4 linked regions of the Homo sapiens genome follow. The protein of the gene in region 2 interacts with the protein of the main gene of each other region in a biochemical or structural test. Each region holds a gene or a part of one and is shown on either strand. Other genes may lie near its edges.

Region 1 (7,021 bases), on a different chromosome or scaffold from region 2:
TATTTCAGTGGTAGTGTTATATCCGTTTGACTTTACCAAGAATATACATTACTTTTACACACACACACACAAACACAGATCTGCAAATCTGCATTCCTATTCCAGATATTCAGATGCATTGTAAAAATATATGCAAAGACAATATATATTTTTCTCTTGGTAATTGTGGAACACTGAATGTCAAACAGCATGTACTAGGTGGGAAGGACTGGGAGAATTATTCACAAGGATCAAATCTTACTTTGTGTATTTAACTGTAGATTAATTAATTGCTTTTATTTTAGTATTTGTTTTTTGAGACAGAGTCTTGCTCTGTCACCCAGGCTGGAGTGCAGTGGCGCGATCTCAGCTCACTGCAATCTCCGCCTCCTGTGTTCAAGTGATTCTCCTGCCTCAGCCTCCCGAGTAGCTGGGACTACAGGCACGCACCACTATGCCTGGCTAATTTTTTTTTTTTCTAGTAGAGATGGGGTATCACCAGGTTGGCCAGGCTGGTCTCGAACTCCTGACCTCAAGTGATCCACCTGCCTTGGCCTCCCAAAGTGCTGGGATTACAGGCGTGAGCCACTGTGCCTGGCCTAACTATAGATTAATTTAGAACCACTTATAGAATATGACCTGCAACTGTATCTAAGAGAAATACGATGCATAAAAAGTTTTAATATAAAAATAGCGTTTGACGTCTTATACATATCATAACAAATATATCTTGTCTTGTTGAACCTTCAGTTTTTACTTACTTTGGTAATGTTTAATCATGTCGCTGATACAGGGAAAAGTGATTCGTGGAGAGATGTAATAGCCCCCATTATCCAGACTTCTAATTTTGTAGTGCTTAATAACATCACCATGCACAGGGTCAAAGTCTCTGACAGACAGAGAGAAGCTTCCTATGGGGGGAAAAGTGTAAGTAAATGTTTATATCTCACAAATAAGATCTGCATTATACAACAACTGCAGTACACATTTTGTGATACAAATATGCAAAATACATATATTTATGAAATTTGTATAAAATGCATAATTTTAAAAGTCCTATAAAAATTCTACTTGACAAATGAAGCTGGCATTTTGTTTGCTGTGTAGCTTGCCAACATACCATTTTCTTTCTTCATGATAATTTTTTTAAAATTATTATTTAGCTACATTTAAATTTTTTTAAGTTACTTTGATTTTCTTTTTTTTTTTTTTGAAATAGGTTGTTGCTCTGTCACCCAGGCTAGAGTAGAGTGGCACAATCATAGCTAACTGCAGCCTCCACCTCTTGGGCTCAAACGATCTTTCTACCCCAACCTCTCAAGTAGCTGAGACTACGATCATGCACCACCACAGCTGGCTAATTTTTTAATTTCTTATAGAAACAGGCTCTTGCTATGTTGCCCAGGCTGGTATCAAACTGCTGGGTTCAAGTGATTCTCAGTCTCGGCCTCCCAAAGCATTGGGATTACAGGCCTGAGCCACCACGCCCAGCCTAATTTTCTTTGTCTTAAAACTTCAGGATTTATTCAAATAATAATGCAAAAGGCTCAGCAAACAAAGCCTGGTAAGAACTGGCCACAATCATGTGTGCTTTCTACAGTACTTTTCTTTTCTTTTCTCTTTTTTTTTTGAGACAGTGCCTCACTCTGTCACTCAGGCTAGTTAGAGTGCAGTGGCGTGATCACGGCTCACTGCAGCCTCCCTTCCCTGGGTTCAGGTGATCTTCCTACCTCAGCCTCCAGAGTAGCTGGGACTATAGGCATGTGCTGCCAGGCCTGGCTAAGTTTTGTATTTCTTGTAGAGATGGGGTCTTGCTGTGTTGCCCAGGCTGGTCTCTAACTGCTGGACTCAAGTGATCCTCTCGCCTCAGCCTCCCAAAGTGTTAGGATTACAGGTGTGAGCCACCACACTCAACTATATTACTTTTAGTAGCACAACTAATCACTGAGGTTTGTTATTTGTTATCAAACCATAAAACTTTTACTACCAGAGCATACTATATGCCCTTTTTTCCCCTTGAGTAGCTCTAGAATAGTTTCTAAAAATAATTTCCTAAATAGTGTTTTAAAAGAGGCTTTGAACAATTTCCTACCTTTTAATGTTTCACTTTCTCTAATAAGGAAAGCTCCAGCGCTATTTCCTGGTGCCAAAAGCTGCCTTTCTGCGTCCTTCCTGGTTATATCCTTGAAAAACCACCTGTGAAGACATTTCAACATTTCCTGCATATTATGTTCCACGGCAAGAAAAAGGTGAAGAATATTAACAAGAAATCCAATGTGGCAAATAAAGCCACCAAGATGACAACACATGAGGACTCACTCTTCTGTTTCTAAGGTGTTGAGTTTGGCCACATAGTTGCTGGGGATGAAGCCTTCTTTTTTTGTTAAAAGGGACTTTGCTTTCCACCATTCTCCATGCCTAGAATAGAAATACACATCAAAAAGAAGCTAAAAGATTACATACTCCATGCATGTATCAAAATATCACAGATATCCCATAAATATGTATTTATGTACAGATATTACATATCAATTAAAAAATTAAAAATAAAGAAAACATAGACTTACCACAGGACCCAGCAACTATACTCCTTGACATATACCCAAGAAAGATGAAACCATAATGTCCACACAAAAACTTGTACATGAATGTTCAAAGCATCCTTATTTGTAAAAGCAAAAAGTAGAAACAACCAAAATGCCTATCAACTGATGAATGGACAAAATCTGGAATATCCATCCAGTGGAGTATTACTCAGCAGTGAAAGGAATGGAGTGCTGAGAGATGCTACAACAGGGATGAACTTTGAAAACATTATGCTAAATAAAAGAAGGCAGTCAAAAAGGACCACATATTGTATGATTCCATTTATGTGAAATATCCAGAATAGGTCAGTCTTCAGAGATAAAAAGTAGATTCGTGGTTTCCTAGGGCTGCAGAGAATGGGAGAGTTGAGGTGACAGCTAAGGGGTGCAGGGTTTCCTTTTGGGGTATTTAAAATGTTCTAAAATGGATTGTGGTGATGATTGCACAATTCTGTGACTATACTAAAAAAATCACTGAATTGTACACTTTAAGTAGATGGATTGTATGGTATTGTGAATTCTCAATAAAGCTATTAAAAAGAGAGAGAGAGAGACAAAGAAAAGAAGCCAGGAGTGAGGGTTTTGAATGTTCACAACACAAAGAAAGAATAAATGTTCCAGATGATGGATATGCTAATTACGCTGACTTGATCCGTACACACTGCATACATGTATCAAAATATCGCTCTGTATCCCATGACTGCATATAATTATTCCATGTCAACTAAAAATAAAAGGAAAAAAGTGTTTATATCCAAGACTCAACAGCTACAATAGCAATTGTCTCAAGATGTTTGTTTAGGATGGTGAAGGCGGGTGGAGAACATCTCTGGAACCCCAGAATCCAGTGGGAAAATTCACTCTCCGTGATGGAATTAAAATATGTTTAGAGACAGAAGCAAAGGAAAACAGCCTTACAACTAAAGCACGCATCACTGCGATCAGGGGTGCACAAAGAAGAGTTGGTACAAATGGCTCCCATCTCACAGAAACAAAAGGTTTGTAACTTGCCCCAGGATAGCTAAGAAATGCTTTCAAATCCTTATAGAAATGAGAGTCAAGGGAATACTGGTCCACAGTTCATGCATTATAAACTCCTTTGTTCAAACATCTAGTTATCATAGAGATGGACACTATGAAAAGAAGAAAACCATAAGACAATTCCAAGCAAGTGAGCTTCAGCACCATGCTCGAGTCCTCAGCAGAAAGGCAGGCATGGAGCCAGGGAGGAGGCAGGGATGAGCACTGGAAGAAGCAAGCAGGTAAGCTGGTAATGGGGGAAGGAATGGGTCCCTTTGAGCCTTAACTGCATTCCTCTATAAATTCCACACACAGACAGGATCCTTGTCTGTAAGGCATGAAGGCAACTAGAACTAATACTAAGCTCTGCATCCTCTTTGCTTATGTCATGTTTAAACACATGCATCATGCTCACATCAACCCCATGATCTAGGTACTGTCATTCCCATTTTATAAGTAAAGAAACCAAGGTATAAAGTTTAAGGGTCTTGTCAAGGTCATACAGCTATCAAGTGGCAGGGCCAGGATCAGGCTTAAGTCCCTGTTCAACCCATATGCAACATTGCTCTCAACCACGGAACACCTTGTCCTTAATAAGGGAGTCTCCCCCTCAAACCCTATTTGGCAGGTCACAGTGACATTTAATGCAAGATTAGTAAGAAAAGCAAGCTAGAATTAAAGCAACTGGAGTTTCTTATTCTGAGCACTGTCCTGCATGCCTATGGTCTGACACTGCCACATGTCTGAGTCAGCAAGAGGGGGTTGAGGAGATGACGACACTCAGGCGTCCTCACAAAAGCATGGCAGCTGCTGAGTTGAGAATTTCCCAACACAGCTGCTGTAGCTCAGTACCCTTAGAACTCAAGCTAGGCTGGGCCCATGAACCCAGTCTAAACATGAGTAATATAACAAAAGAAAAGTGACATTTCAAGTATCATGCATGGGCCACACAGACCCAAATTTCTTAAGGTGGCAAGAGTGGATAAAGAAAGAAACCAGGCTGGGTGTGGTGGCTCACACCTGTAATCCCAGCACTTTGGGAGGCCAAGGCAGGAGAATTGCTTGACAGCAGGAGTTCAAGACCAGCCTGGGCAACATAACAAGATCCCATCTCTACAAAAATTTTAAAAATTAGCCAGGCCTGGTGGCACATGCCTGTAGTCCTAGCTTCTCAGGAGGCTGAGGTGAGAGGATTGCTTTAGCCTAGGAGTTCAAGGCTGCAGTGAGCTATGATCATGCCACTGCATTCTAGCCTGGATGACAGAGAGAGATCCCATCTCAAAAAAAAAAATTGTTTTAAAGAAAAACCACTGTCTGTCTTCAAAGGGAAACCCCCTGAAGTGTGCTCACAGACCGACTTAAAAGGAAAATCCCTTTGGCTCTATTCCTTCCACTGCCCACTCCCTGTGGGTAGCAAGGAGGCCTCATACCCATTACAAGAAAGGGGCCGGGCTATGGCTGTAGCACCAGAAGCAAGACAAGGGGACAGCCTGCAGGACTCAGTGGCCTGAGGAAACGAGCAGCCGTGGCGTGCTTGAGAGCACTTACTCCTCCAGGACTTTCATCTTCTCTCCTTTCTTGAAAGACAAGTCGTCCGGGTGGATGCCATCATAGGGGTACAAGGCTACCACAATGTCTCCTTGTTCCTCTGGATCTAAAGATGAACACAAGAGAACACCTGTAAGAATCCATCAGCAGAAGCGTTTTAACAAACCTCATGGGGCACAAAGGATGAGAGGAAGCACTAAGAGGGGGCAACTGGAAGAAGGACATGTGCTTCCTGCCTAGTGGGCTCAGGGTCTGCACGGCCCACAGAGAGTACCTTGCTGTATACACTGTGTCCAGTATTTGTTCTTGCAAATCACTTAAAACTAAAACTATAAATACAACTCTATATTTAAGAAATTATACACCCATGTTCACAGCAGGATTATTCAAAATAGCCAAGATGTGGAAATAATGCAAACATCTATTGATGGAGGAATGGATAAACATCATGTAGCATTTTGGTTTTTCTCTTTTGAGACGGAGTCTCGCTCTTGTCGCCCAGACTGGAGTGCAATAGTGCAATCTCGGCTCACTGCAACCTCCACCTCCTGGGTTCAAGCTATTCTCCTGCCTCAGCCTCCCCAGTAGCTGGGATTACAGGCGCCCACCACCACGCCTGGCTAATTTTTTGTGTTTTTAGTAGAGACGGGGTTTCACCATGTTGACCAGGCTGGTCTCGAACTCCTGACCACAGGTGATCTACCTAACTTGGCCTCCCAAAGTGCTGGGATTACAGGTGTGAGCCACTGCACCCGGCCAGGGCATATACTTACAAGGAAATATTATTCACTATTAGAAGGAAATAAATTCTAACACTTTCTACAGCATGGATGAACCTTGAGGACATCAGGCTAAGTGAAATAATCCAAACACAAAAGGACAATTACTGTATGATTCCACTTCTAGGAGGTACCTAGAGTAGTGAAATTCATAAAGACAGAAAGAGCGGAGGTTGCCAGCGGCTGGGGGAGGAGGCAATGGGGACTTATTGTTTAATGGGTATGGAGTTTGAGAAGATGCATTCTGGAGATGGAGGGCGGTATTGGTTGTACAACAATGTGAATGTACCTAATGCTGCTGAAATGTATACTTAAAAATAGTTAAGAGGGTAAATTTTTATGTTATATATGTCCCACAATAAAAAAAAATAAAAACATTTAGGACAATCACTTTATAGAAGCTCTAATAGTAAAGAAAAAAAATTTTAACTATGTTGCTATGAAAACATACCTTTAGTTTGAAACCTCTGTCCAGGTAAAAGCTGAGATTCTGGAACCTACGAGAGAATATTTGTTAGAAAAAAAAATTCTGTTTAGCTTTTCTTACTCACATTCGTGTTGTATATATGATTTTTGTAACAGTAGCAGATGTTAGGATGGGCTCATTTATTAAGTCAGAAAGAACAGGAGCACAGAGGGAAAAACCTGTAGAGGTGCATCCTGCCCTGCTTGGCCAGTGACAGGGCTCTTTATCACTTGCTGTGGGTGGCAGGAAGGGAGCGAGGTTCTGGGCAGGTGCCAGGTGCTCACCTCATCCTAGCTCCTCCTCTTCTTTGGTGACAGAGCCCTAATATTATTTGGGGTGGCAGTTTGCCCAGCTCAATGAGTGTGCTTCCAAACTCTCTAGCCCCGGGCAGAGGGCAGAGGGAGTTTTGGTCCGCAGATCGGTTGTGCAGGGCTTTGCTGTCAGCTCCCCTTTTCCCTTGCCTCTTTCTCTCTCCCTAGAAACAAGTGAAGGCTGGAGTCTTCACATAGAAAGCAAACACCAGCGGCAGCAGGATGGAGACGGAAGAGGTGGGACCCTGGTGATTTCGTGGAGTTGCCGTCCCAGCCTGGGACTGCCCATCTGAGGCTTCCCCAATTGTATAAAATTGCATGGTCAGGGCTCTG
Region 2 (7,622 bases):
GTGACATACACAGTGACTGTAACAGTGTCTTGAATATAATTGGGGCTCAATACACCTTTACAGAATTATGTGGAATCAATCAGCGGTCAGAAAACAAAAATAAGGTACAAAAGTAAGGCATTACTCTTATCTTTCCACCAGGTGGCGCTGTGTTCTTTAGCAAATGCAGCTGCCATGCGTTTAGCGGCCAGGAGAGAAGGTAGACAAAAAAATCACAGACCACAGACCAGCAGGCCTCAGGCAGGTCAGCCTGGGGACTGAGCCAGGTTACATAAGGTCCCTGTGCTGACCTTGTCTCCCCAGTTGCTAAGTGTTTTGAGCCTCTAAAAACGGATGGGTTTATAAAGGTGGGTATGGACAGAAGCCGAAAAACCTGCCAACACATCCTGCCCCATCATGAGTCTTAGGGTTAAGCACCCAGGAGTGGCACTGGGCCTGGCTTTCCTAGTCTCTGGTCACAGAAGCCCAGTCACCCCTGTGCCAAGTAAGGCCCTTCTACCTCTACACCTAGCCCTTCCTCCCCTCTAGCCCTGATTCTCAGAGGGGAAGGAGCAGGCAGGGTCGTGAGGATTCACTGGGCATATGGGGGCTCTAACCTCTTTAGGGGCCTCACTGCAAATGAACTCCTCAAAGATCTGGTGTGCCCTGGAGGCCAGCTTGGTAGCTGATCGGATCTTCTTGAACTCCTCACAGGCCAGCCAGAACTCCAGGTTCTCCTCACTGAACTCTGTCTTCAGGAAAGCGTGGAAGGCAGCCACTCCATCTGGGGTTGCGGGAAAGAAGAGGAAATAGGTCAGCTGGAGGGACAGCAGGGAATACAAGAAGAAAGGAAAGCAATTGCAATTAATGGCTCTATTTTTAGAACATAATTTTCTTGAACAATGACCTGCCTTTATATGTTGAATAGAGGCTGGCACACTAGGGGATCATTATTATTATTATTACTACTACTATTATTCTGCCCAGGCTCTCAGCAGTCCTGGGGCTGGCTCCAAAGCACATGAGTACACATGTGCCACCCAGAGACAGACACAAAAGGCTCCTACTCACTTTTACTGCTCAGCAGCAGGTCGAACGACTCTCTCCACCCCAGCACATCTTCTGAGAAGTTTCTACTAAAAGACAAAAAGAAAAAAAAAGAGTAAGAAAAAAAATCAACAAACCAAAGCATAGTACAAATTCTAGCCAGAACTCTGATGGAAAACTGCATAAAATTCACAGAAAGGCTTGCTTGGTGATTGCTGAAGCTGACACCTCAAACTCTTAGTTGGACTTAGGGTAAGCAGTAGTGCTTTCTAGAGCACAATTCAGCAACCAGAAATCAAAGCCAGGGACTCTTTAGTCCTCAGTCAATATCTCTAAGCCTGTCTCGTCTCTGTCCAAAAATTATTTCAATTCCCCTGACTCTCAAAGATTTGTTTTGTACACCTTCCCAAGGAAATAAGGTCCTCATAAATAGAGATTACATCTACACATAACTCCAGAGTTTGGTACAGTTGATAGCCAATATGAAAGAGTTTCTAGGCAAGGTGCATACTAGAAAACTTCAAGTGGTCTTGGATTCTGTCCTAGCCCTGGATGCACGTGCAATGAATCCCGAGGTGGGAGAGTCTGGGAACTAGGCATTCATGCCCTGTGTGCCCTCATCCGTGGATGGACTTGGAGCCCTGGAGCCACCTACCCACTCACCCATGAGCCAAGTAGTCATAACAGACCAGCAACAAGTCCCACTAAAATCTCTAGGGAGGTGTTGCCAAGGTCCACTTAGCGTGTCCTGGCTTCTCCCTGTATTTCCCTCCTCATGACTCCCTTCCCACTCCCTTCCCTCTCGGAGCCCTGAGCTGGTCAGCAACACTTACTTCTCTTTGCTGTGTTTACTGCCCCACTCGAACTTGCCAGTACTCCCAGTATCGCAGCCCAGCTCTGATTTGTGAAGAAAGATCCCCAGACGTGTCTTGAACTCTTTGGCTCTGAAAAACAAATCAGGAACATGAAAGCATTCTCTCATTTGCTCAGCCAGTGTGGAGAGGTTTATGGGTCCCAGAAGAGCTCTGGGTGGTGCCACCCAAACTTTAGCCTCAAGAGTTCCTGGAAACTCTTGGCTGTCCCCAGGCCAAGAGTGCTTCTCTTATCAGCATCATCAACCCCAAAGCAACAAAAGCAATGTTTGAGCTATGCTGTGGTAGGTCTTACACTTTCTGGGTAATACACACGCTGCATATATGGGCTTTTCCCTAAAGTCACACTGATCTCTCTTCGTGCCTGTTGATTCAGAAAAGAACTCAGCATTCTTTTCAGAAGTATTTCTGAACTGTGTGGGAAACTGATTCCTGCCTTCATCTTTACTTTTTCCTTCCCAGCCAGTAAGGATTGGAAGCTGTTGAGTAGCTCTCTGGAATATGGACACACCCTCAACAGTGGGAGCCCCCACCCCCACACACCCCACCAAAAAAAAAAAAATCTCCCTGTCTTCCAGGGGCAGAGGAGGCAATGCCCCTAGCTCTGGTCTGAGGAATGAAAAACAAATGCTTAAGAAATGGGCAGGCTCAGTGCTGCCTGGAAATGTCAACGTGGCCTTCCCGCAGCCGGGTCTTCAGCAGGTCACCTGAGCACGACTGCAGTTTGTCAGAGGATGGGGATGGCAGCAAGCCGCGGGCCCTTGCTTCCCTTCCCCTTGCTTTCTCCCTGCTCCTGGAATCTGAGCACGTGGCATCAAGTGCGCTTCTACCTCTCTACTCAAGCCTCTAGCGCCCCATCCCCGCGCCCACCCAGGTCCCCAGGCCTGCCGCTCCACTCCCTAAGAGTTGGTGGGACTTCCCCCAAGCAGTTGGACAACCTCCCCTTACCTCTCCAGGCAGGTGGTGGGGAAGGCGGCCAGGGTGCGGCACATGGCTGCGGGCGCAGGGCAGCACGTAGTAGGCAGGATGGTGGCAGGCTCCAGGAGGCTCCGCGTGCGCCAGGAAGCAAAGGCGCGGTAGCAGGTGCTAGTCAACTGCGGTTGGGTTTAGCAGCCTGCAAGCGCCCAGACTGAGCGGCCGCTGCTTTAAATCCCCTCGGAGGAGCGGGGCGGGGCTGGGCACTGCTGACCAATCGGAGGGTGGGGCTGGGCGCTGAGAAGGCGGAGGCGGGGCCCGCAGCCAGACTGGGCCGGGTGCAACTTTCGCGGCAGCTGGAGCACGCGGAGCTGCACCCTCCGCCCAGAGGACGCCGCGTGTGGAAGGAAAAGCGGCAAGAGAATTGGCACGGGGATGAGACGTGCACACCCAGTTTCCTAGGGAAAAGTACCTGCCGACCTCTAGTAACAGCAGGAAAGTCACGCAGCGGTGTCGTGTTGAGAGAGTTTGCACGGGGGTGGTGGGTCTGGGAGGCACACAGGGCTTTCTTTGATCGCAGGCAAGTCTGAGCCTGCTGGGTCCTGAGGACAGGCGCACAGGGTGCAAACCTGGGCAAAACAGCATCTGATTATACTGATAAGTACCCTTTACGAGGCTCTTACCATGATGGACACGGGGCTAAGTAAGCTCTTCATCATCATCTCCATTTTATAGATGAAGAAATCGAGAATCAGAAAGCTAAATAAACTTGTCCAAGATCACAGTTGGAGATGACAGAAAAGTGGAATAGGGATGAGTAGTTTATTGAACACCTACTATGTGCTAGGCACATAAGTAAGACTTGCTCAAAGTCTTAGTTATTAAATAACTTGCTCAAAGATGTGCAGCTAGTAAGTGTTGGCTCCAAAATTCAAATGTGAATTTGCCATTCTTTTTCCATTGCACACACACACACACACACACACACACACACCACACACACACACAAAGGTTAGTACCCGGTCACGGCTATACCTGTGGACGATCCTGGGTTTAAGCAGTTAATACCTTATTGTCTCCATCTCTGACATAAAGGTAATAAATGCCCTTCCTCTCACCTCATCTTCCCATAAAGGCATTGGGATTGCTATTAAGAGGCTGTATGTGAGGTTAAAAGTACAGGGTCTAGAGTTAGATTTTCAGGTTTCAAGTCATGGCTCTGCCAGGTGACCTGCTGAAGACCCAGCTGCAGGAAGGCCACGTTCACTGTTAACTGGCTACTGATGGGAGACGAGGCAAACTGCTTAACCTTTCTATGCCTCCATTTCCTTGTCTCTACGAAGAGAACAACTTATTTCATAAGGTGGTTGTGAGAACTAAATAAATTAATTCTTAGTTTGAGTTCCTAGGAACTAGACTCGGGTAGACACTTGCATGCAGGAGGTTTACTGGGGAGAGTTATCAGAATTAAGAGGGAGTAAAGAAAGCAGGTCTGGGCAGAGGGAGGAGTTGAAGGCCATGCCATTTCAACAGAGACCCCAGCTGGTTCCAAGGAATGCCCGGAAGCTCAGCTGGCCCTTTGGAACTGTCCACTGAAGCAAGAGGACAAGGCCCTGGTAACCCCATAAAGACCATTCATTGCATACAGCTGCCCAAGAAGACAGCCTAATCTTAAGGCAGTGCCCTTTGTCAAGAGCAATTCCTGGAGAGAGACTAACACCCTGGGAAATGATGATCACAGTCCCCAAGACGGGATCTGGGTGGCACCGCACAGCATCCGTGACAACATATAAGGTGCTTATATGACAGTGCTCAACATGTAGTCAGCAGTCAATAAATGTTATAATAGCTTTCAGTTTTACTTAATAGGGATACTGGGATTGCTAGCAATAAGGAAAATTAGTGAGTCTTTTGTGCCTCTTGGAATACAGTATAGGCAGTGTATACTGAGGCACTCTTAGTTAAGTACACCTGAGGCACTCTTAGTTAAGTGTACTGGAACAGGAAATAGCTGGAAATTGGATCCTATCTCCCAATTCCTGAGCTAGTACTTTCTCCTGCTCTGATAAAGAAAGCAAAATAAACGGTGCCAGGAGCAGTGGCTCACGCCTGTAATCCCAGAACTTTGGGAGGCTGAGGCGGGCAGATCACCTGAGGTCAGGAGTTCGAGACCAGCCTGGCCAACATGGCGAAACCCAGTCGCTACTAAAAATACAAAAACATACCCAGGCATGGTGGTGGGTGCCTGTAATCCCAGCTACTTGGGAGGCTGAGGCAGGAGAATCTCTTGAACCCAGGAGGTAGAGGTTGCAGTAAGCCGAGATCGCGCCATTGCAAAAAAAACAAAGGCATTGATGCACAGTGCACAGACCAGCAAATCTGAGAGCACAAAGCTCCCTACTCTAGATGAACGGCCCTCTCCAAGTTCAACCTGCCTCTTTGTTGCCATGGTTACCTCTTCAGTTTCCAGGCAGAAACTTTTTGAAGTTCACAATTTATCCCAAATTATCTTCCCAGCAGGTCGGTTCATATCTGCAGTTTCGGTAATGCAGGATGACTCGACAGTTGCTGTAAATCCAGCAAGTTGAGCTCACTTATGAATTGCACTGGCTTGGACAAAACCTGACCTCATTTTTGCCCAGCACTCCCAGAGCAGATGTGATCTCTTTAATGGATGGCAGCATGGGGGCACGGCTCTGCACCCTGGGTCATCTGGGGTCAGCAGTCTGGGCAAAGCCGTAGTCAAGATTAAATGTCCCACAGCATCCCAGCCATATTGCCTTTCATCTCCTTCAGCTCCCAGCCCCCAGCACTACCCTTTCCATGGAGGCAGAAGTCTAGATGGGGATCTTTGTCTACTGATAATGGTAAGCAGAAATGAGAACTCTTCCTCCATTTTTCTGATTTAGCTCAGATGATCCTCACAGTGGTTTAGGTCCTCCAAATTCAATCATCAATCTACAAATACATATTTCTTATGAATTTACTATATTCCCAAGTTGGTGGGAAAACAATAGCTTTTAAGGCTCTTCCCTGAATTCAAGGACCTTATAATCTAGCTAAGGAAATAGAACTGCATGGTGGGGAGCAGGGAAAGTGAAAGGAAACTATTGTTTGTCACAGAAACAGATGTCAAGGGAAGAGGCTGATTAGAGACGGTTGACAGTATTGAAAAAGAAGTGATGGAGCCATGGTAGCCAGTGAAAAGCAGAAGAAGTAGGAGGAGGCATGAAAGTGAAAGAAACAGGAAAAGCTCTTATCATTTGCAGGTACAGCAAAGGTGCAGAAAGACTAAGGAATTTATTAAATGCTGCAGAAGCACTTAGGGTTGTGGGACACAATTGGATGCCACTTTTAGATTTAAGAGCGTATCCTGAAGCAGCTGAATGAGGAGGCAGTGATCATCTCCAGCAGAAGTGAAATAGGCAATCACTGGGGACATTTCCCCACTGGTTCATGACAAAAACTTTGGGCACCCTCTCCTCCTGGGTAGGAGAAGTTGACCAAATTCAGCCTGGTTGTAGGAAATGACTTTTACTATGATTAATGATTACTGTTTAGGGTATTGCATGCAGCTTGCTTTGCTGCTATATTAGTCCTCTCTGGTTTCTTCTTTTCCCTCCCTCCCCACTTCTCCCAAACCTAGACTTGGAGGATGACGTCTAGACTCCTCTGTAAGGCATCTAAGGCTCTAACCACTTGGTCTCATATCCTTTATACACCCTAAATTCCAGCCAAACTCAGCAATTGGCACATTATCCTGGGCATCATGCTGCCTTATACCCACAAACCCTTGAGCATAAAATTCTCTTGGCCTGAAGGTCCTTCCCCTTCCTGTACTACTCAGTTAAAAAAATATTTTTCAATAAACTGATTTTACTTATATATTGAGATACAATTACATATAATAAAATGCACAAATCTTAAGAGTACAATTCAATGAGTTTTGACAAATGTATACACCCATGTAACCAATATGTAATCAAGCTATGGCTTCCATCACTCCTCATGCCTGCTCCAGCAAATTTCTCCCCTAAACAGAGGTGACCACTAGCCTAAGTCCTAGAACCATACATTGGTATTGACTTTTCTTGACTTTTCTACCTATTTTTGAGACCTAGCTCAACTGCCTTCTATTCTATCATACCATCCCTAATTCCTCCTCCCTCCCCGCATCTGCAAGCAGAGTTGGCCAGGCCTCCTTTGAGCCATCCCTGTTGCCCTGTACTGATAGAATCAATGTACAGTCTGTTTCCTCTGTGCACTCCTGGAGGGCAGGGACTATTGCCTTGGTCATCTTTTTTTATCTTCAGCCCCTATCACCATGCTCAGTTCTGCATATGTTCCATAAATGTTGGCTGGGTAGATGGCTTCTGTTTCAACACAAATAATAAAAGCTAACATTTATCGAACACTTACTATGTGCCAGGCTCTGTTCTGTGTGCTTTGACTTGAAGTATCTCTTTCAATGCTCACAATTACACTCATAAGATCAGTAATATATTTTCCCCATTTTACATTTGAGTAAACTCTGTTTACGTTGAGTAAACAGAGATTGGTTAAGTAACTTGCCTATGGCCACAAAGCTATTAGGTGGTCGAGTTGGGTTTTGATTTCAGATAGTCCAACTCCAGGACCTGGGTTCCTAAGCAAACACTACGTCGGCTTGCCATGTGGTATTTTCTAGAACTCAGAATTGGCTTGCTATGAGAAGAATGAAGCACATCCTTGGGGAATCACGGCACAATGTTTCAGGTCATCCTTCTGTCTTCTGCAGTTTTGTTTCCTTGTATCCTCTCTTTCTTGCTC
Region 3 (7,884 bases), on a different chromosome or scaffold from region 2:
ACACAAATAGCAAGCTGGGGCCTATGGAACTTCTGACCAATTGGCTTCAAGTCCTCTTAGGTTTATTTTAGTTTTTATTTTTTTAATTCCTCTTAGGTTTTTATGGAAGCTTCATGATGTCAGCATTCCTTCCCCCAGGGTATAGGGTGGGGTCCCTCTCTGAGGAGGGTCTTAAGACTCACAATTTGAAAGACAGGGAAAGATTCCAGTCCTGCCTTGGGGTAGGTGAAAGGAGGGCAGGAGAGATTCTGTTTCCCAAGGCCTGCTCCTAAGGCCTAGGATGCCTAACAAAATACTGTAGCAAGGGCTGAGAGTTATGAGCCAGGAACCATGGATGAAAACCTATATATGTGTGTGTATGTGCATATATATATATATATATATATATACATACACAATACTTAATAGATTACAATATAGTGTAAACATAACTTTTATATGCACTGGGAAACCAAAAAATTTGTGACTCCCTTTATTACTATATTTGCTTTATTGACTATTTACTCAGGTCTGGAACTGAACTTGCAATATCTCCTATATATACTAATATGTGAATTAGAACCAGGGATTCATCTTTTTATCTCAATTACTGGAATAACATAGAAGTACTGGTAAAGCTGGCCAGGCAGTGGCTCATGCCTGTGATCCCAGCACTTTGCCTGTAATCCCAGCACTCTGTAATCCACTGAGGCAGGTGGATCACTTGAGGTCAGGAGTTTGAGACCAGCCTTGCCAACATGGCAAAACACCATCTCTACTAAAAACAAAAAACAAAAATTAGCTGGGAGTGGAGGAGTACATCTGTAATCTTAGCTACTTGGGAGCCTGAGGCACAAGAATCGCTTCAACCTGGGAGGTGGAAGTTGCAGTGAGTTGAGATCGCCCCACTGCACTCAAACCTGGGTGACAGAGAGAGACCCTGTCTCAAAAATAAATAAATAAATAAAATTATTGGTAAAGTCGAATGTATACATACATATATACATTTCTGACAGTGCTAGAATTTCTGGTAGATTATAAATGAGATATAGAAGGAAAAACTTGATAAATGTGAGTTGAGTGTATTCCAAAAACAGATACACTACTATAAACAGTGGCAAAGGAATGAAATTACACCCACAGTACATTCTCCACATGGGCCAGAGTGCAGCTTTAAAAGTATAAATCTTGGCCGGGCACGGTGGCTCATGCCTGTAATCGCAGCTACTCGGGAGGTTGAGGCAGTAGAATCACTTGAACCTGGGATACAGAGGTTGCAGTGAGCTGGGGTTGCGCCGATGCACTGTAGCCTGGGAGACAGTGAGACTTCGTTTAAAAAAAAAGAAAAAAAAAAAGAAAAAAAAAGGAAATGAGGGAGGCCAGGCATGATGGCTCATGCCTGTAATCCTAGTACCTTGGGAGGCCGAGGCGGGTGGATCACTTTGAGGCCAGGAGTTTGAGACCAGTCTGGCCAACATAGCAGAACCCCATCTCTACTAAAAATACAAAAATTAGCTGGGCGTGGTGGCACACGCCTGTAATCCCAGCTACTCCGGAGGCTGAGGCACGAGAATCGCTTGAACACGGGAGGCAGGGGTTGCAGTGCGTGGAGATTGCACCACTGCCCTCCAGCCTGGGTAAAAGAGTGAGACTCTGTAAAGTAAAAAAAAAAAAAAGAAGAAGAAGGAAGGAAGAAGAGAGAGAAAAATAAAAAAGAAGAGAATCAGATATATTTACACAGATGCAAAAGTGCCTAATCCACTGAAAAGCCCTCTCTGTAAGCTGTCATTATTATGAAGCTAGGAGAATGCCAAGAGCTGGGAGGTATCAAAAGTTTCAGGAGTGCCTTGTGAAAAGGAGGGGGCAGAAACTGATGTGAGTCCAGCTGCCAGGGTTGTGCGAGTGCGAATGTGTGTGTCTGGGGAAAAGGTGATAAGGAAATGACTCAAGTGATTTACAAGACAAGCAAACGTATGTCTTGTGAAGGGTGATCTATTTAGACTAACCTCAATTACTGACCAAGAACCTATTTGACCTGACCCATTTTCTACTTCATTCACACACCAGTCTTTGTTCTCTTCCTTGAAGTCAGGCCACACACTGCCTCTTCTGTTACCTGAACACCCCTATATTATTCCCATCTCAGGACCTTCTGCACCTGCCTGGCTCCTTATAATTCCGGTTTCTGTTCAAATGTTGCTTCTTCGGAGACGATTTCTCTTGACTATTCCATCTAAATAAAATAGCGTAACTCTTTCCTTCGAGTTCCCCCGATTTCTTCATTGCACCTTTCACTCTCTTAAAGTTATCTCATTTATGTGTTTACTTGTTTAAGGCTTGCCTCCCCCATTCCGATGTACACTCTGTAAACCAGGGACACTTTTGACCTTGTTCCTGGCTGTATGTAACCTTAGCGTCAGGCGCACAGAAACTATATACATATCTGCTGTCTTCTGTAAATATAAAACCTCAAGTCCGGAGATCCCTAGACACTGGGAGCGATCAAGGGCCGGGAGTGTGCCTTGTGGACGAATGAGGAAGTGGGAAGGCCGTCCTGAGAAGATCGGGGAACCCTGGGAAGGAAAAGTAGAAGTCCGAGCTCTCGGGAGGACCGAGGGGCGCGAACGTGGGGGTCTCACCTGCCGAATGGCCGCCAGCGTGTTCTCGGGCGCGTCGTGGCTGCCGCCACGGTGGGCGATGGCAGAAATGCGGTCCCGGGGCTTGAGCACCTGCAGGGCCCTGCAAGAGGGCACCGGCTCAAAGCTGAAGACGCGCAGTAGAACGAAGAGGCTGCCGGTGAGGAGGCAGGCATTGACCGGGCTCCGCGTCACCAGCAGCAGCACTAGCAGCAGGAAGGAGAAAGGGCCCAGGAGGCCGCCCTGGTCCTCCCACAGCCACATGCCGGCGCCCGCACCGGCACGGACGGGAGTCCCGGACCCGCCGGGCTCCTGGGGCAGTAGAACGAGAAGCGAGGGGGAGGGTCCAAGGCACCGGCAGCAGCAGGAACCCTCTGAGGGGACCAGCGCCGCACAATGGCGGCAGCAGACACATCCAGAGAGGGAGTCGGCCGCCCAGCCAATCAGGGATCGGGATTCGCAGCGCCAGTGGGCGGAGCCGCTCCATGGCAACGGGGGAGGGCCCAGGCCCCAGGCCCCAGGCTCACGTTCCAAATCTAAGGTGGGTTAGGGTTTTCCGAGGTCTGAACTTCAACCTGGGCGTTCAGACTCCTAGGCGAGAAAAGGAGGGATAAGAACCATCCTAAAGCTGTAGGACTGGAAGGGATTTTAGTGACTCCTTTATCTGCCCTTGAGGAAACTGAATTCCAGGGAACCTGGAGAGGCAGGATGCTTAGACTATCAATTCAATTCAATTCAATTCAGTTCAGTTCAGTTCAATTCAAGATGTGCCAAATACCGGTCCAGGTGCTCCGGACACAGTTGAACAGGACCTACAGGGTTTTTGCTCTTATGGGATTCACATTCTTGTGGGAGGAAATAAAAGTTAGCAAGTACACCTAACGTTTACAGAGCACTTACCATGTCCCAGGTACTTGACGAGCAAACACTTTATATGCTTATCTCATTCTCAATACAGCCTAACAGTTACTATCAGGAGACTGATTTCAATCGACTTTATTTTCCAGATTCTGGGGGACTGGAAGAGCCTAGCAAAGAAGGCACAATCGGATTATAAAACTGGAAGGGGTTTTAAGGATTCCCTTATTTCATAGATGCGGAAACTGAGGATAGGTGAATTAAGCAGTTAATGGCAGGGTGGGGACTGACATAAAGGCCTCCCCAGTGATTTGTGACATTTTCACTCCTCCTCCCCCTAATCTTACTTCTGCTAAGGGCTTTTGTACCAGGCACTGTACAGGAGTTACCTCAACTGTGCCTCACAACCACCCTTGTGATAGGCACTTTTAAAACCCCCATTTTACATATGCAAAAACAGGCACTGGAAGGAGGGTAAGAGAGATAGACCATGAAGCCGAGTTAGGGAGTGAAAAGGGGCCCCTGGACATATTTTGGAGGGCTGGTAACATTTTTATGTAGAGAACTTTGCAAAAATATTCAGGGATTTTTCTGTTACCTTTTTTTCCTTTAGTGCATTTTCCCACTGATTTGCAAAAGGGGATAGATGTCTTAAGCCTTCCAGTTGGCATCTAGGATTCAGCCTTTTTTTTTTTTTCTTTCAGACAGTCTCACTCTATCGCCCAGGTTGGAATGCAGTGGTGCAATCATGGCTCACTGCAACGTCGACCTCCTGGGCTCAAGCGATCTTCCGACCTCAGCCTCCCGAGTAGCTGGGATCACAGGCTCGCGCCACCCCACCCGGCTAACGTTTAAAATTTTTGTAGAGATGCCGTCTCCCTTTGTTGCCCAGGCTGATCTCGAACTCCTGGGCTCAAGCGATCCTTCCGCCTCGGCTTCCAAAATGTTGGAATTATAGGCGTAAGCCATCACGCCCGGTGGGTTCAGCAAGTTTTTACCTACAAGAAAATATTTTGGTGAATGTTACATGTTTTCTAACGGCTGCATAGAAAGGGGTTATCTTTATACAGATAAGAAAAAAATGGCAACTTCAAGGAACACTTCAGGGGGCTTCAGACCCTGAGGGGTGTTCCTATTCTACTAAATAAGTAAATTTATTAATAAATTCTAGTCTCTAGCTTGCAAGGAAGACTACGTTTCCCGGCGTGCAGCGTGCTGGCCGTAAGCATTACGTCCTCCATCGCGGGCGCGCAATGCACCTCGGGGATGGTAGTGTTCTGGTGGCCCAACGGTTTTAACAGCCCGGGAATCAACCACCGGAAGTGCCGGCCCTGAGAGGTGGAGTCGGGGTGGCAGCGGCGGCGGTTGCCAGGAGCCCGCGTTGCAGCCTGAGATCCGTAATATGGCGGGGAGGAGGAGGAGAAGGCGGCGGCGGACCGAGCTGCGCTCTGTCAGTACCATTTGAGCCATTCGCTTCCTGACAAGGCCCGTGGCGAGGGGAGAGGAGCTGAAGGGGCCGTGGGGGATCAGGTGTGTGCATGAGGAGGGGGCTTGAGCCTTGACGGGTCCGGGCTGAGAGGTGGTCTGGCGAGGCGAAATTGGCGCCCTGAGAAGCTGAGGGCGGGCTCTGTGCTGGGCTCCCGGGCCTCGAGCCCCCTGGAAAGGCGCCGGCTGTTGGGAGGCGGGACCCCGGGGGCAGCCAGCACCGGGCGCTGAGGTGATGCTCCGATGCTGGCCCCGCCTGGAGGGCCCTCGGTTTGGAGTCTTAAATCGGAGGAGCTGGAGGAGGTGGGCATGGGGCGCTGGGGAGAGGGCAGGGGGCCGTCCCTGGTGAATAAAACTCGGGCCAGAGCCGGAGAACCCCATCGTGGTGATCAAATTGTTTGGGCCGTTTTTCTTCTCCCTCCCACGGTGCTGGAGAGGGAGGCTTCCCCGGGGTGTGCATTGGCCATTTATGAGCCCCTGTTTCCACAACCAAGGCCCTAGGAGCGCTGCTTACTTCGCCTTTGCCACTCTGGGGCATAAACTTGAGGATAATAAAGTAATCGATTGCCCCTGGAGCTGCTAGATGGTTCCCACCCTTTGATTCTATTCTGGTTACGATCCAAGCTCCCTACCCCCAGTTTAGGCAAATGGCAGCCATCTCGAGATTGATTTGACGGGGAGAGGTCTAGGGACAGGGAAATGAGGAAGCCGTTGTCCCCTTTTCTATATTTTTCAGTTTCATTTGAAACCTACGGGGAACCAAGCACTGTCGCTGCCCTCCAGGAATTCATACTCTACTGCTAAAAATCGTCATCATCATTATCCTCTTAATAAGAAAAGCAGTCCCCATTATTTGTTGCTTTCTGCGTGTTCTGCACTACGTTAATTGCCCTACATGCATTAGCTCATTGAATTCTTACAACATTCCTTTGAGACGGATACCGTGATCATCCCTCTTTTACAGAGGACGAAACAGGTGTGGGGATGGTAACTGGCTTGCCAAGAACTTGCAGCTAGTACGCATCTGAATAAGAAATCTTCCCCTTTACCGCTTTTACAAGAAGTTTGCGTCTTTGGCGGAACTGATGGGCAAAGAAACACTAGGTTCTGCAAAAAAAAAGCAGGATCTGTTCTGTGTTACTTTTACCACTCTTTTCAGTGACATGTCTGGCAGAGCACGGGTAAGGAGCAGATAGGACCATGAGTCTACGGGGTTTGCAAAGAGGCTCATTTGCACAAGGGTCAGTGGTTCTCTGTGGTATAAATGGAGAAGACGGCATGTCTGAACCTGCTGTAGCTGACAAATTATTACTGGAAGTGGACCAGTGATGCCTGATGGCAAGATATAGAGCAGTAGATTTGTGGCTGGGGTAGCCTTGTAGTCAGGGCTCCCTTAAAATAAAACCTTGCTGACAGTGGTAATTGTAGTGTGAAAGGCATAGTGTCCTCTTGCTTAATCATGGGATACAGACTGCTCACTTCTTAAATGGTTACCTTTGCAGTTTAAGAGGTACCAGTTTCTCTGGGACTAGAGCCATGGTGAAATTTCCATTCTCTAAATTCCACTCTTCCTTGCTAGCTTCGGTGTATAGTCCGCCTTCTTTTTTTCTTCTGGTTTACATTATTGTTTGAGCTTATTATTATTCTTATTCATTTATTCAATACTTTTATCAAGTGCCTGCTGTGTGCTGATACTGTTCTGTGTAATGGGGATTCAGTGAACAAGACTGAAAAGGTACCTGTACTTATGGCGCTTACATTTTGGTGGAGGAAGACAGACAAAAATCAAGGAAATAAACACGATAATTTCAGATAGTGGTAAGTGCTATGAAAATTGGGAAACAGCAGGGTAATGTGATAGTGATAGAGGCAGAGTTCATTTAGATGGGGTCATCAGGGATGCCTTCTCTGAGGAGGGGATATCCAAGCCGAGACTGAAGAATAAGAAGGATCCAGTCATGCTCTAAGGATCATCTAGTAATTTGTATAATCTCCATATTAGCACTCATATTTGAATGAGTAATGCGTTGTCATATGCTGTGTTGTGCTGTAATAATAATATAGTACTATACATCTGCAAGATATAGGACATATATGTACTATTTAAGGGATGTGAATAACTTTCTGAAACAATGAGGCATAGCTCTATGATGTTGAAAGAAAAATAAAACTATGGCCATAAAAGTATTATATTTCCTTAATAATTTCCCTCACTTCTAAAATTGAATTTCATGCTTTGCTTGAGTATCCATAGAAGATATATTACTTTATTTGTATAATCTATTTACATTCTGTGTATTGCTGAATGCATGGCATGATTAAAAAAATAAAATATTTGAGCAGAAATGGGGTTAAGAAATAATGTGAGTTGAAACCTAGACCTAAAAAAAGGCTATGCCTTAAGGTGTTTTATTGTTTTTACTTTTGCTTTTTTAAAATAAATAAAAGCTTGTAAAATAGTCTCACTCACACTGTAGAGAACCATTTGTTTGTCATTAGATTCCTACTTTGCATAGATTGAACACAAATAATTACAATTGATTGAATAGTAGGAAGAAGTTTTGTTATTGATTAAACTATTTAGAAAAAATAGCATTATATCTTATTTTTTTATAACCTGATTATAATTTTGACTATTTTTTTTTTCCCATTTCTCATTGCACTATAATTTGTCCCTGATACTTTGGTGTACTGAATTTTTAAGTACTTTGAGGCCTACCGAGGACATATCCTATTTCATCTTTGCATATCCCACATCATGAATTGAATTTCCCTGCCCTCTCTTTTTTTGTTAAGAAGCTAATTATTTTAAAATGAAGACATAAAGGAACATGATTGTATTCTATTTTCTGTTTCCATAGTTCATACCCTTGCTGGTTATGATTCTGATAATGTCTTTTTATTTTCCCTTGCTTATTTAAAGGAA
Region 4 (7,021 bases), on a different chromosome or scaffold from region 2:
ACTCGGCACACACAGAAACCATGGCAACGGGAGGGAGGGGCAGAGACCCCGCCAGACAAAGGCCCTCTGAGCCCCGCCCCTGGCGTCTCTTCCTTCCTCCAGGTGCTGCTCCCCGGCCCCCCTCATTCCCTCCGAGAAGGCTCAGCACGGGTCCGGCACTGGGAGGCAGGGACTCGAGGTCTTGAAAGGGACCGGCAACACTCCCACCCATGTGTGTGGCATGGCCCTATAACGGATGCCTGAACAGACCAACAGACTCCACACCTCCCTCCCGCCAGTCTCTGGCACTCGGCTGCCTCCAGCGGCTTCCAGGGGTTCACAGTGCCCAAAGGGGAGCACTACCAAGCAGGGCCTGGCTTCCTACTGCCAAGTCAGAGATCTCTGTGTTAGGGAAACTGAGGCCTCAGGTCCTGCCCACACATGGGAAAGTCTTTCTGGGGCAAGGTGTGTCTCCCTCAGTGGGGCCCTTTCCACTGCACAGAGGGAAACTCAGGCACCGGGTGAGGAAGGCTGGCCTGATATAAAGGAGGCCCCAGACCTGTTCATCGCTGGCGCCTCAGGCCCCAGGTACCGCCTGTGCAGGAGCCAGGAGGTGCTGGACAAGACGCGGATCACGCGGAGCTGGGCCATTTGGCACCGTCTCCCTGGAGGCCTCTTCATTTCAGGCATCCCTCCGCTGTTCCCAAGGCACCTGAATGACCTCTTTTCCCTTCTGATTCATGGCGGTGGACTCTGGGAAAGATAACGGGAGCCTAGGCCTCATCTATGAAATGTACCCCTTGAGGGAGGGTGCCAAACCCAAGGCCTGCCCTGAGTAGCCTCTTCAAAGTCACCCCAAACTGCCTCAGGGCCCAACCCAAGCCAGCAGCTGTCCTTGTGTCCACAGGCCAGGAGACCATGCTAAGAATCACGGCACTGGCGGGGCGGGGTGGCTCACGCCTGTATTCCCAGCACTTTGGGAGGCTGAGGTGGGCGGATCACCTGAGGTCAGGAGTTCGAGACCAGCCTGACCAACATGGAGAAACCCTGTCTCTACTAAAAATACAAAATTAGCCGGGCATGGTGGCACATGCCTGTAATCCCAGCTACTCTGGAGGCTGAGGCAGGAGAATCACTTAAACCTGGGAGGCGGAGGTTGTGGTGAGCCGAGATTGCATCACTGCACTCTAGCCTGGGCAACAAGAGCGAAACTCAGTCTCAGAAAAAAAAAAAAAAAATCACAGCATCACAGATTCTAGTGCTGGATACAGAGAGGGAAGAGGACAGTCTGAGGTCTCATGGTGAGGAACTGGACCCTCTGGGACCCACAGTCTTGGGTGGCCATGAGGATGCACGGGTCTCTGCTCTGTGCATGGCTTCATGGCCCAGAGAGGCTTGGACGCTTCTGCTCTGGCTCTCCTAAGCCTTCCTCAGCCCCCTCAGTCCCTTACGGCCTGGCCTGGCAACACAGCAGAACCCCTAGGAACCCCTACAAGAGAGGGCAAGGCCCCACTAGGCCACAGCACTGAGATTCGGAGGCCAAGGAGCAAGAGGAACCAGCCTCAACAACTATCATGCAGTCATCAGCCAACACCATGGCCACATTCTACCACCACACAGTACCGTACGTGCACCCAGCACTGAGCCTGTGCTCACAGTGCAGCCCTAAGGAACATGCTTTCATTTCACTCCTCTGGACAATTCCCAGTCTCAGAGGCCCTCACCATGGACTTCAATAGCTTCTGAGCCTTCCCCAGGCTTGGTCTCAGTCTAAGACTGGGGCTTATGGGAGAACAAGCATAATATTAGGGAAAGAATGAAGTCCTAAATTGCCAGCTATAACTTGAGCATCACTGTGAGAGGATACGGACTAGGAGAAAAAGTGGGAAGTCAAAAGGTGCAGCTGCAGCCGGGCGCAGTGGCTCACACCTGTAATCCCAGCACTCTGGGAGGCCGAGGCAGGCGAATCACTTGAGGTCAGGAGTTCGAGACCAGCCTGACCAACATGGTGAAACCCCGTCTCTATTAAAAATACAAAAATTAGTTGGGCGTGGTGGCACGTACCTGTAGTCACAGCTACTCAGGAGGCTGAGGCAGGAGAATCGCTTGAACCCAGGAGGCGGAGGTTGCAGTGAGCCGAGATCATGCCACTGCACTCCAGCCTGGGTGACAGAGTGAGACTCCATCTCAAAAAAAAAAAAAAAAAAAAAGGAGTGGAGGGGGTCCCCCATGACCACATGGCTGTAGAAAGCTTCATACACAGAGTCTTGGGTCCCACCTTCCAGGACAGACAGCTCCCTTTCCGCCTCCTAAAAGAAGAATTGAGGCCCGAAAGCCAGGGCCCATAGGCACAGGCAGAACACACACGCACCCACACCGTCTGCCTGCTGTCCTGCCTGATCCGTTACTTCCAGCCAGCACAGACTCCCAAAGGGCCATGGCAGTTGGAGGCAGGCGCTTAATCACTACATGGGTCATGTCCTGACATCTCTGTTCCCTGTTTAAGTGCATAAAGTCCCTGAGCTTCAGTTTGTCCATCAGTGAAATGGGTGTAATATCAGTCCCAGCCTCACAGGATTAAATATGACAAGATAATGAAGAATTCAGCTCCACACAACAGTCAAGGCTCAATCAGAGACAGCTGTGGTTATCACCTGAGGGGAAACAGGCCCAGTGAATGCAGCCCTAGACCCAGTGAGTGGGTGCTGGTAGGGGAGAATCCTTAGGCTGAGGCCAGGGATCCTTTGTCCGCCCCCCAGCAGGGGAAACCCAGAGTGAGCTCATCTCGGGGCTGTTGCTGCATTTCCAGGCATTCATCTCAGCCTGTGGCTGGCCTTCCGGCTTTGGAGAGCAATGGCCGCTCGGGAATCTAAGAGCAGCCCTCTGCCTTCCTGCTAGCCCTCCCGCCAGCGTCCTTCTCCCAGCCACAACTTCCTGTGGCCAAAGAAGGGGCCTGGAATCCTTCTCGAAGGCACCACCTTCTCTGGGATCTTGGGCCCGATGGTTGCTGGGGTGGGACAAGGTACAGAGCTACCTGGACTGGCTCCAACTCAGTGACCGCCACTAGAATGGCCCACAGGAGTGCAAAGATAAGCCTGGGCAGGTGTTCACCTCCTAGACCCTTCCAGTTGGCAAAGCCCTGGGGGGCCCTTGGGCTCTCACCCCCACCCTAGCACCAGGCAGCCCTCTGGCCTCTTCCTCTTTTGGGCTCCTCCTCCCCCAGCTGCTTCCTCCTTTTCCTCTGGTGTGGACACCACTTCCCCGAGAGGCCCAGCCCTGCCCTGCCATGTCGTGCAGACTTCATTACCTCCTCCTCCCGCCGGGGGCACACACAGTAGGTGCTGCCATCACCTCCTTTGCATATCCTGAGGCTGTCAGCAGCCTTGGAGCCCCCAGATTCCTCCAAGCCATAAGGATATCTTCTCCCCAACAAGGCTGAGATGACCCCACCTTTAGGCCTTTGCTCAGACTGGTGTGGTGCTGCCTTTCAAGCCTTGTAAATGTGCACAGAGGCCGGCACAGAAGAACCAGCCCAGCAAATGTTTGGTTATTCCAGAAAGATTCTTCCTCCCCAGCCACCAAGAGCAGCCACAGCCCCAAGAAGTAACATCAGGGTGAGGGTGGGGTTGGGGTTTAGTAAGAACGAGAGCTTCAAGCTAGAAGGGCTGGGTGGGGCTGGGCAGACGGGGTTCCACCCTGCACCTGTAGCTGAGGGAAGGGCTGCCTGAGAGCATCAGGTACCAGGGACACCATCAAAGGGCCCAATCCTTTGCCTTCCCCAAAGCACCTTGCAGAGCACTCTTAGGCAGGGTGTATCAGCAGTGGCCTGGCCAGAACCTGCTGACCCCTTCCCCTCCTCGCTCAACTCCTAGGCTGGGATTCCTGGCCTGAGATGCTGGGAAGATGAGACTACTCCCTGGCCTGTACCTTGCCCCCATCTGCCCGGTCCTGCCTCCCCCCACAGCACAACGGGATGTAGGGGAGGCAGCACTCAGGCTCTGGGGTGACAGTCTCCTCCTCTGCTGTGGGTGGGGTGGGGGGAGTCCCTGGTTCCTCAGTGGCTAAGAGCTTGGGTGGACAAAGCTTCCTCCATCCTGTTCCCGCCAAGTGAATGGGTGGCTTTTAGAGACAGACTGAGAGAGTCACAGCCAGGGACCAAGAACTAAGATCAACGGCAGAGTATACAGGACCTGTGTGTCTGCCTGTGGCCCAAGTAGCCCCAAGTGCACCTACTGCCCCACCCCCTGCAGTGCTGGAGGCCTAGGGACCTTGCTGGGACCTGACCACACCCCACCCTCAGCACTACCTGCTGCCACTTGCCAGGCAAACTGATGTTCAAGGGCCTGGGACATCAGTGATGGCACTCAGTGACCCTACCTCTCAGGCCACCCAGGGCCAACCGCTGACAAGCTGCCCAGGGCCAAAGGGGTCCCGGACCATCCCCAGGCCCCATCCAGCAGCCTAGGCTCTGACACATAGTGGGTGGTGTGATGCTGCCTCAGGGCTTCTGACATGGAAGCCTGTGTCCCGCAACTGGTTTGACTTCCACCTCCTGCCACAGCAGCGCGGCTCATTCTCTCTGTCCTCACACCTGCTCTGCCCTCTGTCTGGGGTTCCTCTCCCCAACCCGCCTGGGATGCCCCCAGCTGAGCTCCAGCTGCCCTGATTCACCTAGTCTCTCAGCTCAGAGGTATCCCTTAAAGGACCTAGTCTCACTCCTACCCTAGAGGTATGACCTCATGTTGGCTGCACTGACACTGGCGTGAGAGGCAGGGGCTGAGCCTAGCAGAACTGGGCAGGATGCAGGCAGAGGGGGTCAGCTATAGCTTGGACCCCTGTTCACTCCTTAGTGTGGGAGCTCTATCCCTGCCTGCTCCTGCAGACAAAGCCCCGACAAGCCTGGGGGAGGGGTGGGAAGAAGAGACTCAGAGGCCCAAGCCGCCCCGCCCCCCATTCAAGTGCTAATGAGCTCCAGCAGTGAAGGAGAGGGCTGGGGTAGAGTGTAGGGGCTGGAGGCCAGCCTGGGTGGGTACTGGCCCACCTGGCACCCAGGGCCCTACCACATCTCCAAACCTAGACCCCCAGAGGTTGGGCCTAAGGTCCCCAGGGCAGTCTGTCACTCCTGCTGGCACCAACTATCTGCACGCCTTGGGCTCCCCACTTGCTGTGAACAGCTGCCTGAGGGCAGGGGAGGGGGTTCCCTAGGGCTCCAAACCCAGGCCAGGCAGCCTCTAGGATGGGAGACTCCTTCCCACCAAACTCTCAGCAGTGGGTCCCTCATCCATTTTCTTTTTTTTTCTTTTTTTTTTTTTTTTTTGAGACAGAGTCTTGCTCTGTCCCCCAGGCTGGAGTGCAGTGGCACCATCTCGGTCCACTGTAACCTTCACTTCCCAGGTTCAAGCGATTCTCGTGCCTCAGCCTCCCGAATAGCTGGGATTACAGGCACATACCACCATACCTGGCTAATTTTTTTGTATTTTTAGTAGAGACGGGGTTTCACCATGTTGGCCAGGCTGGTCTTGAACTCCTGACCTCAGGTGATCTGCCTGCCTCAACCTCCCAAAGTGCTGGGATTATAGGTGTGAGCCACCGCGCCTGGCCTCCCTCACCCATTTTTCATACCTCCAAGCTTTGGTAGACTGTCCCCATAACCTGTGGCTGCAGGGAGGCACTCTGCCCCCAGGTTATGAGTGGAGAGCAGGACTCCTGCCAGGGCTTCACCTGATGCTGAGTCTCTCAGCCAGTGCCATAGGTGGAACTGGGATTCGAACTCAGGTCTGGATGACCCCATGGGCTGGTCCAGGGAGGGTGGCCCTTTCCCCACCAGGCCAGGAAACACCCACCCAAGCTCTTGGGAATACAGGCCAAGTCTTCCTGCTGCAGTGTTCTTGTCGAGTTGGTCCCTCTGACCCCCAGTGCCTGGCCCTGGCAAATGGTATTCATCCTTCACAGCTGCCCAGCAGACCCCCTCCTCCAGGAAGCCCCCCTTCACAGGCACCATTAGAGTCTAACTCACTACCCAGCCAGCCAGAATCCCAAGCTAACCCTTCCTATCTGTCTCTAGCTAGACCAGGCTCCAGTGGCTGCCCCAGGATTATACTTACTCCTCTCCCAGGAGCTCTGCCCTGTTCATGGACATGTTCAATCACTTCATTCTGTCCATATACCCTCATTAGGCATCTATAGTATGCCAGCCCTTTGCAAGAGACACAGACAGGACAGAGGCCACAAAACCCCCTTTCTTTTCTTTTGGTAAACTTCATTGAGCCCTTGCTATGTGCAGTCTCTGCACTGGCCAGTACCAGGACTCTCACAGCATTGCTCTGGTCTGAGCCCCAGGGCTGCGGAGCAGCCCCTGCTGGACCAGCCAGCTCAAGCTCGACTGTGGCTACTGCAGTGTCAGAGACAGCAGCCCTCTAGCAGTGCACCAACAGCCTGAGTTGGAAGGAAGAATACAAAGCCACTCTGCTCAGCAGGAGTTCCGCACAGGGTGGGATAAGAACTCTCTCAGGTGCCAGCATAGCCTGTGGCGGGGCTGGGAAGAAACAGCCTGAAGAACTTTTCTCAGTGTCCCCTCAATGCTGGTCACCAATCCTGTGGTGGGCCTGTGGGCCCTTGCCACCTGCCCACAGTATGCAAACTGCCGCTCAGTTTACTCCACCATCTACCCAAAATCAGGTTCAGAGGATACTTCCTTCATTCAACAAACAGATGAGAAGCACCCAGTAGATGCCAGGCTCCATGCTGGGCACAGAAATGAAGAGGACTTAGCCCTGCCCTGCAGTCTCCAGGCATCTGAGGGGGGAAGCAACAGCGCTGGGAGCCAGATGTTTCACCAGCCTTGGTCGAGGGAGGATGTCCAGGAAGGATCCTGGGAGGTGATCCCAGAGTAAAGTTTTAAAGAACAATCAAGTAGGGAACAACACACACAAAGTTCCAGGGGCAAGAGAGAACTGCTCTGTTTACATTCTGAAGCCTTTATGGAGCCAATGGTGGACACTGTCTCCTTTTTTTGTGAAGCTGTCCACACAGGCCCATCCCA

The links.
Region 1: of the proteins of RGS16 (region 2) and LYN, one has a biochemical effect on the other in vitro, tested with the Homo sapiens proteins (one study listed by BioGRID).
Region 3: the proteins of RGS16 (region 2) and GDE1 form a complex in vitro, tested with the Homo sapiens proteins (one study listed by BioGRID).
Region 4: the proteins of RGS16 (region 2) and GNAI2 form a complex in vitro, tested with the Homo sapiens proteins (one study listed by BioGRID).

The regions. Positions count from the first base shown.
Region 1 is NC_000008.11:55,945,835-55,952,855, reverse strand, and holds part of LYN (tyrosine-protein kinase Lyn), read right to left. Parts: intron 6,409-7,021; coding exon 6,363-6,408; intron 5,239-6,362; coding exon 5,133-5,238; intron 2,398-5,132; coding exon 2,299-2,397; intron 2,176-2,298; coding exon 2,072-2,175; intron 891-2,071; coding exon 741-890; intron 1-740. UniProt on the Homo sapiens protein: Non-receptor tyrosine-protein kinase that transmits signals from cell surface receptors and plays an important role in the regulation of innate and adaptive immune responses, hematopoiesis, responses to growth factors and cytokines, integrin signaling, but also responses to DNA damage and genotoxic agents.
Region 2 is NC_000001.11:182,601,370-182,608,991, forward strand, and holds the start of RGS16 (regulator of G-protein signaling 16), read right to left. Parts: upstream 3,021-7,622; 5' UTR 2,891-3,020; coding exon 2,847-2,890; intron 1,971-2,846; coding exon 1,860-1,970; intron 1,116-1,859; coding exon 1,051-1,115; intron 764-1,050; coding exon 597-763; intron 1-596. UniProt on the Homo sapiens protein: Regulates G protein-coupled receptor signaling cascades. Inhibits signal transduction by increasing the GTPase activity of G protein alpha subunits, thereby driving them into their inactive GDP-bound form.
Region 3 is NC_000016.10:19,519,086-19,526,969, forward strand, and holds the start of GDE1 (glycerophosphodiester phosphodiesterase 1), read right to left. Parts: upstream 3,014-7,884; 5' UTR 2,880-3,013; coding exon 2,619-2,879; intron 1-2,618. UniProt on the Homo sapiens protein: Hydrolyzes the phosphodiester bond of glycerophosphodiesters such as glycerophosphoinositol (GroPIns) and glycerophosphoethanolamine (GroPEth), to yield a glycerol phosphate and an alcohol.
Region 4 is NC_000003.12:50,239,194-50,246,214, reverse strand, and holds part of GNAI2 (guanine nucleotide-binding protein G(i) subunit alpha-2), read right to left. Parts: intron 1-7,021. UniProt on the Homo sapiens protein: Guanine nucleotide-binding proteins (G proteins) are involved as modulators or transducers in various transmembrane signaling systems.